3 separate regions of the Homo sapiens genome follow, and regions 1 and 3 are each linked to region 2. The links come from fine-mapping of genetic effects on gene expression. A gene starts in region 2. Each other region holds a variant in brackets. All regions are shown on one strand. Distances are between the middles of the regions.

Region 1 (4,087 bases), 25 kb before region 2:
CAGCTTTCTCATCCGTAAAATAAGAGGTTCAGACTAGACTACCCCAGAGCCATAGCCCCCCTTTCATTGCCAACATGATATGATTCTTCCCACTACTCACTAATGGACACACAACATGGATAAACCATGGCGGAGACAATTTCCCAGCAAGTGGGCCCCCTCTACCAGGATAAGAAGGGGCAGGAGCCCTGGATCACACTGTAGCAAAGGAATAAGAGTAAGGACGGACATAGAGGACTGGAACACCAAGACCTGGGGATAACCACGGGAGGCAGGGAGAAAGGCAAGGAAGGAGTCAGAAACTTCAATATTCTCAGATGGAGAATAGGCAAAATAATGACACCACTGAAAAGCGATTAGGCACATTGAGTTAGAGTGCCAGCTCCAAAGTCAGATTATCTGGATTTGAACCCTACCTGTGCTCCTTGTTAGTGGTGTGGACCTCAGACAAGTTACTTAACCTCTCTGAGTAGCACGTTCCCCAGCTACAACATGTGGAAATAACAGTACATCGCGGGGCCTTAAAAGGAATAAATCTAGTTAATAATGCCTAATCAGTTAGTGCCTCACACATGGAAGCTCATTCTAAGTGTTTGCTTTTATTTTATTAATATAATATTATCTATTATACTTTACAATTATTATTAAAACAGATAGGATCCACAGATTCCAGTCCCTGTTCTCTCACTAGAGACCTCAGAATTCAGGTTCCCCATTTGTAACATGAGAGGCTGAACACAATCAGTTTTTCTCAAAGGAAGATCTGTATACATATTGCTGAGGGATTATATTTAAGTTCTCTAAGAGGATTTTAAACACTTTGTTTTCATTTCAACAGTCATCTAAACAAAGTCTAATAAACACATATGGATTTTTTAAATGCTTACTTTAAAGCCAAGTTCTGGCACAAGATTTCAAAGCCCAAGTTTATATTTGTGTTTATGATTGTGTTGGCACCAGTATAATTGTAGCAAACTCATGAGGATGGAACAGGTGCCATCAAATTAAGGTCATACAAGTAGAAAAATGGGTGGAGAATTCAATCATTAGCACATGATAATATAGACTGGCCAAACTCAAAATGATCAGCATGATAGCATTTACTGCCATGCAACTTATAATTTGGTTTCAGTTGAACAACAGCTGCCTCACCACATTTAAGGTATTAATTTGAATGGTATTGATTTTGCAATTTTGGCTGCACTTAATTTGTAAATATGTATGGGTCATATAGTTGTATAATAACAGCCTATAAGAAGTTTATACCTACTTTTACTTCCTAATATTTAAGTAACACTATAATAAAAAAGGAAATTTAGTGAACAAAAGGATGCTTTGACACTTTTGTTCTTTTACAGACAGTGCAAGCATTATTCTAGTTTGAGGAAAACTGAATGAAATTCTCTCCAAAGTCCCTTATAGCCCTTTGAATCTCAGAAAGATGATCATTTTGATTACAGACATGTTAAGCTACATTAAGACAGCCAAGTGGGGATACTGGCTTAGAATCCAGGAAAAAAAAATAAAGGCAGAACAGGAACAAGAGACTTAGAAACTAACTACAGAGAAATGCATCCTAGAGATGGGATCTCTAAGGAAGGGTGTTCAGAGATAGAGAGACAAAGAGCTGACGTCTGAGTTTCAGGGAGTTCACTCTGCTCTACAGCCCTCACATCCCTCTGTGGAAGAGTTCCATTCACCTGCGCATTAAAGATGATCTCCAGATTACTCAAAGCATTATTGGCCCATCTGGGAAGTGAATGGCTTAGAACCCTCTGCAGAAATAAAACAAGTCTCAGTTATTATATTCCTCCAGGCCTGAAGGAAAGAATCCAGATTGACACCAAGATACCCAGTATTGATCTCTAAGAGTGGGGCCACTAACTCACTTCACCCACAGCTTCCAGAAATACAGGGGCCCATTAGGGGCTTTTGGAGAGCCAGGTGGCTCCCAGGGCTGCAGCAAAAGGAAAAAGTGGGGTGCTCAGGGGCGATTCGGAGCCAGGTCCTAGGGATCAGAACTCATGCCTGGGCAGTAGCACAAACCAAAGCTACTATTTCTACCTGGCTGCAAATCTGCCCTCTATGATAAGCCACATGCCATATCCGGACCACACAGTCCTGTGTCCATAAGAGCCAGATTCCATCAATCCCTGTGTGAAAACCAACACAGCTTCCTTCCCTCCCTCCCTCCTCCAATCCCCAACTCAAAACCACAAAGAAAAAATGAGAGAACCCCCCGCTGCTGAAAAACCCAAGCTTACTGTTTGTCTTCTTCTGAAAGTGAGGTTCTTCCACAGCAGCAACCTCAGCTGAGGCCAACAAGCCATGTTCCCTCAGCCAGCACCCCCAGCGTGTGGCTCGGGAGCCCTGGAAGGCAGCGGCCAGAGCTCACAGCAGGGAC[G/GC]CCGTGGCTGGTCATTAACTGAAAGATAAAGCAGGAGGGGAAACAGCCATCAGTTATTGCTGCAAAGCCATACACCAATGAGGACTGCTAATCCAGCCCTCTCAGCTGAGACCTCCAACACACAGCTCTGCATCATGACTGCTTCTCAATGGATCATGAGTCACCAGCTCCCAGCCTCTGGGTTCACCCACAAAGAGGGACTCGGGAGGTGTTCCGACAGCAGGCTAGGAGCTACGTGTTATGGTCCTAATCATTTTAGTTCTATAGATGTTATCATCTGGGAATGAAGAATGCATTTCTGAAAATAGACCTCTCTCAGGTGGCCAAAAACACTGAGGATGGAAATGGCATACTGGAATCCCAGAGACCTACCTCTCTTTTCTAAGAAAATGCCTCCCCTTACATACAAAGTCAGCAGCATTTGTAAATTTTGCCTCAAGCCTGGAGTGACTTATACTATTCCCTGAACTTCCTTACATACTAATTTTCAGTGGGTTATACAACTGAGTCCTTCAAATGATAAAAAGCACCATCGGCCAGGCGTGGTGGCTCAAGCCTATAATCCCAGCACTTTGGGAGGCCGAGGCAGGCGGATCACGAGGTCAAGAAATCGAGACCATCCTAGCCAATACGGTGAAACCCCGTCTCTACTAAAAATACAAAAATTAGCTGGGCATGGTGGCAGGCACCTGTAGTCCCAGCTACTTGGGAGGCTGAGGCAGGAGAATCGCTGAACCTGGCAGGCGGAGGTGCAGTGAGCCAAGATTGTGCCACTACACTCCAGCATGGCGACAGAGCGAGACTCTGTCTCAAAAAAAAAAAAAAAAAGCACCATCAATAAAGCAGTTTCCTAATCTGGAAAACCACAACGTGCCTTAGATGAGTGTGAGTAAACACCAAGAAAATGCTACCGACACCTGGCTCTCAGGTAATGAGGACAACCCTAGCGCTGTGTCTCTGGAAAGAAAACAGCATCCCATGGAGAAACAAGTCTGCTATGGCAGGCTCAGGGCATCAACTGTGAAACCGACAAACAAGCTCCCATGGTCAGCACATATGCACACTTCTGGCCTTGTTCCACCTGCACCTGAACACACCGCCCCCCTACTCCGTTGGGTGTCACAGGTGCCTCCTTGGAGGACTGTTTGCCATGCTAGGGCAAGAAGGTCTTCTCGTGAACAAGGGATACTACATTCTGTGTATCCCAGCCACCCATCCAGCAGTTACCCTTATTTAATGCTGGAATAGTCCCAAGTAGTTATATTAAAGTTAAAGCTGGGGAGGGGGCAGAAGATGAAAAATGGAAGGGAGGACACACAGGTGAAAATTCGGCCCTGCTGGCACTTGGTAGCCATGAACTCTCCTAGCTGTGCTTATGAAATGGCTCAGTGAATCACTGTGGCCTCTAGAGGAGTAGGGGCAAGGGTAGGGTGGGACACTGGGCATGAGGAACAAGGAGCAGAAGGAACTAAGAATGCAGTAGCGAGGTATGGATACAAAACCAAGCGCTAGACTAGAAATCTGTGAGTCCAAATGAGATCTCCATGCCAAGGTCAGTCTCTAGTAGAACAATACCCTTTTATCTACCACCCAACAAGGACTTGGATTAAAACTTCTAGAAAAGTCAAGAGATTGGAGGAAATTGCAGTGTCTGAGAAGAAAAGACAGCCTACCACTATGTAT
Region 2 (4,087 bases):
ATCATAATTTAAGTCTGGGTTCTAAACTACGGCCGTTAAAAAAAAAAGAAAAAAAAATCAAGAAAATTCCACTCTTTAACTTGGGGGAAATTTTTGTGAGGTTCTCTTCGTGGGAAGCAGGGATTCGGCCATGGAGGGCAAGTGACTTGCTGATTTCAGTACCCAGAAGGTTTTTTTAAATATGAAATTTGTCCACTATGAGATGAATGTGTATATACTACCCATTCTCTTCTTGAAGTGTCAATGAAAAGTCGGATTTTAAAAGCTAATGGTATCAGTGCTGCAAAGGCAGGCCAATTACTGCCAGTGCCAGACAACTTTTTTCTTTGTTTATTTTTAATCTTATTTCTTTGCTTCTTTTTGATAAAAGATATACCTAAAGAGGCACCTACACATAACCCTGGCACCGTCCGCCGCCCCAAGAACCTTCCTGCTTTACCAATGGCCTGGGAGTTGGCAAACACGCTAACAAAAAAAAAAACCAAAAAAACAAAAAAAAAAAAACAAAACGGGCTTTCGCCTCAACCTCATAGTTCCTCCCCGTCTGCAACCACCGGTCTTCACCGGATTCACAGTCGGAACCGCGAGCAAAGACACCTAGTAGAGCCGGCCGATTCCTAGGTCCTCCGGCCAGGAGGCGCTGCGGGCCAGTCTCCGGGGGCCACCGCAGCCCGCGCGCCCAGCACCCCCACCCTCACGGCAGAGCCCAGCCCAGCCCCGCGGCGGAGCTCCGAGTTCTGCGCCGCCCGCCGGGGTTACTCCCGGTCATTCCACGGCACCACCTCGGCCCAGCTTCCCCATCTGCGCCCAGGCAGAAGCTGCCCCGAGAGACCAGCAGCAACGGTCTGGAAGATGGGGCTGCAGGGAACGTGGGAGAGGGAGGATTGGGCACCCCACCTCCGGGTCTCCGCAGGCTCTCCTAAGTCTTGTTTTTAAAAGAAACAAAACTCGGCCGCGCGCGGTGGCTCACGCCTATAATCCCAGCACTTGGGGAGGCCGAGGCCGGTGGATCACCTGAGGTCGAGGGTTCGAGACCAGCCTGGCCAACAAGTTGAAACCCCGTCTCTACTAAAAATACAAAAATTAGCTGGATGTGGTGACGCGCCTGTAATCCCAGCTACTCAGGAGGCTGAGGCAGGAGAATCGCTTGAACCCGGGAGGCGGAGGTTGCAGTGAGCGGAGATCGTTCCATTGCACTCCAGCCTGGGCGACAGACCGAGACTTAAAGGAAAGAAAAAAAAGAAAAAGAAAAGGAAACAAAACTCGTCCGCGCTCTGCGCCAGGGACACCAGCTCAGCTGAGCGCACGGAGACTGTAGGCAGGACCTCCCTACCCCTCAGGTCAAACAAAGACCCAAGGCCTCTAGTGAGCAATAGCACCACGGACCGTTTGGGACACCTCCAACTCGAGTTCCCGGATTCACAGTCCGGGACTGTGCCGCTCCAGTCCCGGGGAGCATATAGCCAATTCCCAGGTCAGAACAGACCAGCTTCTTAAGAACCGAGTGAAGACTCAGTGCTGGCATTTGTCTCCGTAGGTACTGGCCGACCTGCAACCAGAAGGGTTTCTAGCCAGCTCAGGGCCCTCCGAACAAAGCAGCGCTCGGTGCCGGACCTGCAGCTCTCCCCACCCGGCAGCAGCGCCCTCAGCACGCCCGGGAACCCCCGACCCCTCTGAGCCCGGGGTACTGCGCCCGGGTCTCCACGCCCAGAGATGCTCCCCGGTCTCCACCGTCGGGCAAGCCCCAAGCGCAGCAGCGCAGAGTCCTGGGGTCACCAGAGCTCGTACTAGGACATCGTCTCCCCATTTAACACCGCCTCCGGTCCCATCTGAGTTGCAAGTGGTGGGGATGTGGGGCTCCGGATCAAAGTCCCCGAAACCGAGCACTTCCCGAAGCCTCCTTGGCCTCGAAACAAAACAATAACGCCCAAGTAAGTCACTGGAGAGCCTCTTACCTGTTTTCCACTTTTGTGTTTGCGTCTCTTTCTCCTACCCCTTGACAAGCCTTCCGGAGAAGGGGAGAAAACAGAACCGGGGAAAAAACAAGGAGCAAAGCGCCCTGAGAACCGGCTCTGTTGGTGCGCGGAGCTCCCCGCCCTGCCCTGCCGCAGCCCGGGAGAGAAGGGTCGGCTCGGCTCTGCGGGTCCCGGCCCCACTCACTCTCGCTCGCAATTACGGGGTTTTTGCCGGGACTAGTTCCTTTTATAGATTCGGCTGCACCGAGCGCAGAGGTTACTATCGGTCAAAGCCTGTGCTCTCCCTCCTCCCCGCCCCGTTCCCGGCCTCTGTTTATGTAGTTCAGTCACTCAGCAGAAAGCACGTGGAGCCGGGGCCCGCCCCTTAAACGGGCGACGTTCAGCCGCCCACGACACATCTAGGGAGTTGGGGGGAGGTGGGTGGGGTGGGGGTGGAGGGTACAGCAGGTGTCTTAGGGTCCGCGGTCTGCGTCCCCTTCCCCCGCCCGGGCCCGCCGGCCTAAGACGCGCGGGAAGCGCTGGGCTCGGGGCTGCGCCGCAGACTCTCTAGTCCACGTTCCCGGCAGCCAAGGGCACCAGTGGAATTTGCTTCCTCTAAATCCTGCTTTCCGCAATTTTTTTTTCCTTTGTTAGTTTCCTCAGCCGGAGGGAGGGATTGGGGGAGAGAGAGCTCTAGGCTGAATCTCCCTCAGGACGCCAATCATTTTGTCTTGTCTTTTGTTTCCTTTCAAAGGCCTAGGCTGGGGTGAGGGGAAGGCGGACAGTCCTCTGGGTAATGGGCTGCTTTTGTTTTCCCCCCACAAACCTGGACTTTGATTTTTGATAGGCGACCTACTGCCTTGGAGATTCCCAGCCTGAGCTCCCCAGGTCCCTCAGAGGACCCGAGAGGAACATCTTACTGCTTCTCTTCATAAATTGAGAGGAAGGAGGCCACAAAAACAAAAAAAGAAACAAACAAACAAAAACACAGAACAATATGGACCAGCCCCCTTTTAATTTCATTATATTGATCAGCCTCCCTGTGATAAAAACACAGGACTTGTATTTAGTTTGTATACATTTGTGAAGTGCAGCCAGAGAATTGCAGTCGTGTAAAATTATGTAGCCACTCCAGACCTCCAACTTATCTGTTTGCCTTTGGCTGTAGGGGAGCAAAACTACCCAAAACACTGGAGGGGCAAAAAAAAAGGCAAGAGTAGGAATGCAGGCCTACACACCATATGTCTAAATATTTAAGTCATCCATCAAGCCAACAAACTAAATGTCACCTTATTCTGGCCAAAACTCAGGTCAAACTGTGAAGAGTCTAAATATGAATCTGCCCTGAAGGGCAGATTCATAGAAGACTCAGGACAGACCCGTAGAAGAGGCCCAAGCAGGCCCTGGAAGTGCACGTGGAGGCCACAAGGTCTCCTACCTTGACAAAGATACCTTTGTAGCCACCTTGAAGGGCAGATTCACATTTAGACTCTTCACAGTTTGACCTGAGTTTTGGCCAGAATGAGGTGGCATGAGAGAGCTGCCCCAAGCCTACTTCTCTTCCCACCTCCAGCTCCATCATATTCCAGAACTCCCACCACCTGCATACAGACATTCAGCTGCACAAGCCCCCTCCATGCTACAGTCAACAGGATCTCCAGGCCACGGCTCAAGCCCAGGTACTCACATCAGTGGTTCTATCAACACTCAGGACAGACCCATAGAAGAGGCCCAAGCAGGCCCTGGAAGTGCATGTGGAGGCCACCAGGCAAGGAATTCTGGAGTCCCAGGTACTCATAACTCTGGGTGGCATGGCCCCTTTGCACCATGGACTGTTTGCCCTTAGAAAGGGATGGATCTGAGCTGGGCGCAGTGGCTCATGCCTGTAATCCCAGCACTTTGGGAGGCCAAGGTGGGCAGCTCACCTCAGGTCAGGAGTTCGAAACCAACCTGGCCAACATGATGAAACCCAGTCTTTACTAAAAATACAAAAATTAGCCAGATGTGGTGGCGAGCGCCTGTTATCTCAGGAGGCTGAGGCAGGAGAATCGCTTGAACCCGGGAGGCAGAGGTTACAGTGAGTCGAGATCATGCCACTGCACTCCAGCCTGAGTGACAGAGCAAGACTCCGT
Region 3 (4,087 bases), 30 kb before region 2:
GCATTGCTATTAGTCTCTGAAAACCAGTTAAATTAATATAATGTGGGGAAAAGAGAATACTATCCACAGTGAGAATGGACACATAAACAAAAAAACCTAGGCATTAACTTAGCCAAACATGTGCTTCTTACATAAAAGAAAACCACAGAACTGTAGTAGGATAAATAAAGGAAGATGAGAATTAAGGAGAGCTAAACTCTGCTTCTTCATGAGTTCATTTAATATCCAAATTTCCCAAGCTAATTTATAGATTTAACACAACTGAACTTAAAATAGCGATAGGGTACTTTTTTGAGCTTGATAAGGTAATAACATTCAATGGGGAAAAAACAGATAAAAATATCAAAAGATATTCTGAGAGGCAAAAAGGTAAGTGGGGGACAATGAGCTCCCCCATATATCAGAATGTTCATCAAATTCAGGGTACATTCTGGGCTCTATCAGCACCAAAACTAAAACTACATATCAAATGACCAAATGAATAACTCCAAAATTGCTCCCTACACATCTTTTTTTTTTTTTTTTTTTTTTTTTTTTTTTTTTTTTCAGACAGAGTTTCACTCTGTTGCCCAGGCTGGAGTACAGTAGTATGGTCATAGCTCACTGCAGCCTTGACCACCTGGACTCAAGCAATTCTCCTACCTCAGCCTTCCAAGTAGCTGGGACTCCAGGCAAGTACCACCATGCCTGACTAATTTCCTTATTTTTATAGAGATGGAGTCTTGCTATGCTGCCCAGGCTGGTGTTGAACTCCTAGTCTCAAGCAATCCCCCCACCTCAGCCTCCCAAAGTGCTGGGAATACAGGCATGAGCCACCATATCCAGGTTTTAATAAATGTCCCAAAAATAACTAGAAAAGGAATCACTATTTAATCAAGTGATTATTTATTAAATAATCACTGGGATGACATGATATGAATGTGAAGAAAAATTAATTTTAGACCCATCCCTAACAGCATACATGCCAATGAGACCTGGGAAAACTAAAGTGAAATCTTAAGGATCACATCAGAAAAATGCTAGAGAGGGGAAATGATTTTTAAAACCAGGCCTGCCTTCCCTGAACTACAAAGTCTCATGCATTGATGGTGGCTATTTAAATTGGTTGGATCCTCTGGAAAGACATCTGATCAGACACTTCAAGGGCCATTTCCCTTCAACCTAGTAATCCTGTTCCTCAGATTTTGGCCTACAGAAATAATACAAAAATAATAAAAGATTAAATGTATAGAATCTTTATAGTAATTTATTTGTAACAGCACACATGGAACAATCTAAATGTTGGCAACAGGGTTTGAACTTATAAAAACTGTGTTAATGGATTACTGCACAGCTATCAGGAATGTCAAAGGCATCATCCCACAGTAGATTTGGAGCCAAAAGATCCCAGCCCTCCTCTTAGCAACTTTTTATTTTTTGAGACAGAGTCTCGCTCTGTCACCCAGGCAGGAGTACAGTGGTGCAATCTTGGCTCACTGCAACTTCCACCTGCCAGGTTCAAGCAAATTCTCCTGCCTCACCCTCCCAAATAGCTGGGATTACAGGCAAGTGCTACCACGCCTGGCTAATTTTTGTATTTTTAGTAGAGATGGGTGTCACCACATTGACCAGGCTGGTCTCAAATTCCTGGCCTCAAGTGATCCGCCCACCTTGGTCTCCCAAAGTGCTGGAATTATAGGTGTGAGCCACCATGCCCGGCCATTAACTTATTAACAATACTCTCTTCATCTGTGAAACAGAAATTGCAACGCATACACCTCAGAATTGCTGTGAGAATCAAGAAAGTAATGGATATCAAAGTATTACTTTCAAAACTATAAAACACAGCCTACACATCAGAAATCATTATTCTAAATCAGAAGATGATTTAGAAATATGTGAACACGCACACTAAATAATGTTAAATGAAAGAAGAAAACAGCATAAAATGGTCCATGTATATGTAATGATTACAATTGCTTTCTTGGGCCTTTGTCATTCAAGTTCCCTCTATCCCAAGAGTCACCAGACAATGTGGCCTGACTACCTCAGGGAATCCTCTTGCACATAAAATAAAATTAAATTCTCAGGGGGCACTGTGGGTCACGCCTGTAATCCCAGCACTTTGGGAAGCCGAGGTAGGAGGATCACAAGGTCAGGAGTTTCAGACCAGCCTGGCCAATATGGTGAAACCGCATCTCTATAAAAATACAAAAATTAGCTGGGCATGGTGGTGGGCGTCTGTAATCCCAGCTACTAGGAGGCTGAGGCAGGAGAATCGCTTGAAACCAGGAGGCAAAAGTTGCAGTGAGCCGAGATTGCTCCACTGCACTCCAGCCTGGGCGACAGAACTAGACTCCGTCTTGA[AAAATAAAT/A]AAATAAATAAATAAATAAATAAATAAATAAATAAATAAATATTAAATTAAATTCTCCTTCCCCAGGAGAATTGGCCCTAAATGATCTGGTCATGTCTACTACCAACTCATCCCCCGCCAGTCTTATTCACTCCACCAGTGCCACTGGCTTTCTTCTGTTCCCTGACCTAGGGGACAGGCACCCCCAGTCTCTCTGCCTGGAATGGATTTCCCTATCTCTAAGCCTCTGATCTTTGCCTGGCTAACCATTGCTTGAACTTCAGGGCTCTCAGCTTTAATGTGACAACCTGTCAATCTAAATGAAATCCCTACCCACACCTGCTAGTATCTAACACCAGTACCATAGTTTGCCGGATTTTTTCCTTCATAATCCTCATCACAGTTGATAGTTATATTTTTATTTGTGTGATGATATGTTTCACATCTGCTGGCCTCACTGAACTGTAAGCTCTACGAAAGCAGTACTCATGCCCAGCTGCTTCACCACTATATACCCAGCTAACCATACCACAAGTAATAGATGCTTAATAGATATTTATCCAAATGAAACAATAAATGTCTATTTGTTTTAACTTTCTTCATTCCGTAGAAGAGAAAACTAAAGCTCTGGAGAAAGGAGTTTTCCTAGGCCACTGAGGCAGATGGTGGCCAAGCTGGGATTGGAATCATGACCACTGCTGCCGGCCCAGGAGTAAGGACAGGGAAGAAATGTGTCAGGTGAAACTAGAAGTGGGGAAAGGATGCAGAGAGTTTCCATCTACTCTGTAAAATTCTCTAAAAGCTCATAAATGAGGAGTTTTAATTTTTGGATAGTTCATTCTTTTTCATTAAAGAATGCCCAAATAGTGGTACTCTGGCTGGGTGCAGTGGCTCATGCCTGTAATCCCAGCAGATTGGAAGGCTGAGGTGGGTGGATCACTTGAGGTCAGGAGTTCAAGACCAGCCTGGCCAACATGCTAAAACCATGTCTCTACTAAAAATACAAAAATTAGCCAGGCGTGGTGCTGTGTGCCCATAATCCCAGCTACCCGGGAGGCTGAGGCATGACAATTGCTTGATCCCGGGAGGCAGAGGTTGCGGCGAGCTGAGATCATACCACTGCACTCCAGCCTGGGCAATAGAGTGAGACTCAGTTTAAAAAAAAAAAAATCACAATTAACTATTTTCCCAGCCACATGACTAGTCAGATCTATTTGAGAAAATTAATAATAAAGGCAAAAGAAAAGAGGCCATGTGGCCACCCTCACTTTGTCCAGTTTGTTCCATGGGGACCTTGGCCTCTGGATCAGCCTAAAACCAGATGAGGATCGTGAAAGCTCTGAAGTTCTCTTCCCCTTCCTGTCCCCAGCCCTGTTTGTACTGAATACCTGCCACCCACACAAGTTAACTGTTACTTTGGACCCAAACTGAGCTTTGCACCCAACTTTCACAACTCAATTCAATTTATTCTTTGCCTAACAGAAACAGCGGAAAACTAACCCTGGCTGATGGTCCCCCCTCAGTCTGCACAATGGGGGTACAGGAGAGGCAGGGGACCCAGGAGTTACCAGCAAACCAGGACACAGAATGAAAAGGCAAGCACTGCCTTTCAACAGGGTTGCTCTGGGGTATACCATTCAGCTCCAGGCTGAACATAGCGTTTCTAGTCTTCCTGGCGGCAGCACACAGGCTTTATGTATGCTTTCTATTCTTCCTAGTGCAAGGGAGCCTCCTCAAGACCTGCAAACTAATGG

Which allele goes with the higher level. Positions count from the first base shown, and alleles are read on the strand shown. Sizes are in standard deviations (SD) of each study's normalised expression. Not every link is listed here.
As copies of A replace AAAATAAAT in region 3, the expression in fetal neocortex of the gene that starts at base 2,176 in region 2 goes up (small effect, 0.33 SD a copy in Walker 2019).

What was found. PIP is the estimated chance that this variant, and not a neighbour inherited with it, causes the effect. A credible set is the group of variants that fine-mapping cannot tell apart.
Region 1: its variant is the best candidate, but not a certain one, in a credible set for the expression of ABCA1 in nasal epithelium (TOPMed, PIP 0.60).
Region 3: its variant is the best candidate, but not a certain one, in a credible set for the expression of ABCA1 in fetal neocortex (Walker 2019, PIP 0.89).

Annotation. Positions count from the first base shown.
Region 1 is chr9:104,901,350-104,905,436 of GRCh38, forward strand. ABCA1 (ATP binding cassette subfamily A member 1) reads right to left here. Exons shown (of 50, transcript NM_005502.4): 2 at 2,265-2,422. The coding sequence starts at 2,330. Among named protein-coding and RNA genes, the nearest start is that of ABCA1, 25 kb to the right of the region's middle. RefSeq lists an enhancer at 1,824-2,736. The variant G/GC (reference allele first, on the strand shown) is at 2,405.
Region 2 is chr9:104,925,980-104,930,066 of GRCh38, forward strand. ABCA1 (ATP binding cassette subfamily A member 1) reads right to left here and starts at 2,176. Exons shown (of 50, transcript NM_005502.4): 1 at 1,956-2,176. It overlaps LOC105376196 (a long non-coding RNA gene), which reads left to right and starts at 810. Exons shown (of 3, transcript NR_188620.1): 1 at 810-1,931; 2 at 3,529-3,745. RefSeq lists silencers at 570-809, 2,146-2,335 and enhancers at 1,486-1,545, 1,866-1,945.
Region 3 is chr9:104,896,203-104,900,289 of GRCh38, forward strand. All of the region lies in intron 2 of ABCA1 (ATP binding cassette subfamily A member 1), which reads right to left. Among named protein-coding and RNA genes, the nearest start is that of ABCA1, 30 kb to the right of the region's middle. The variant AAAATAAAT/A (reference allele first, on the strand shown) is at 2,347.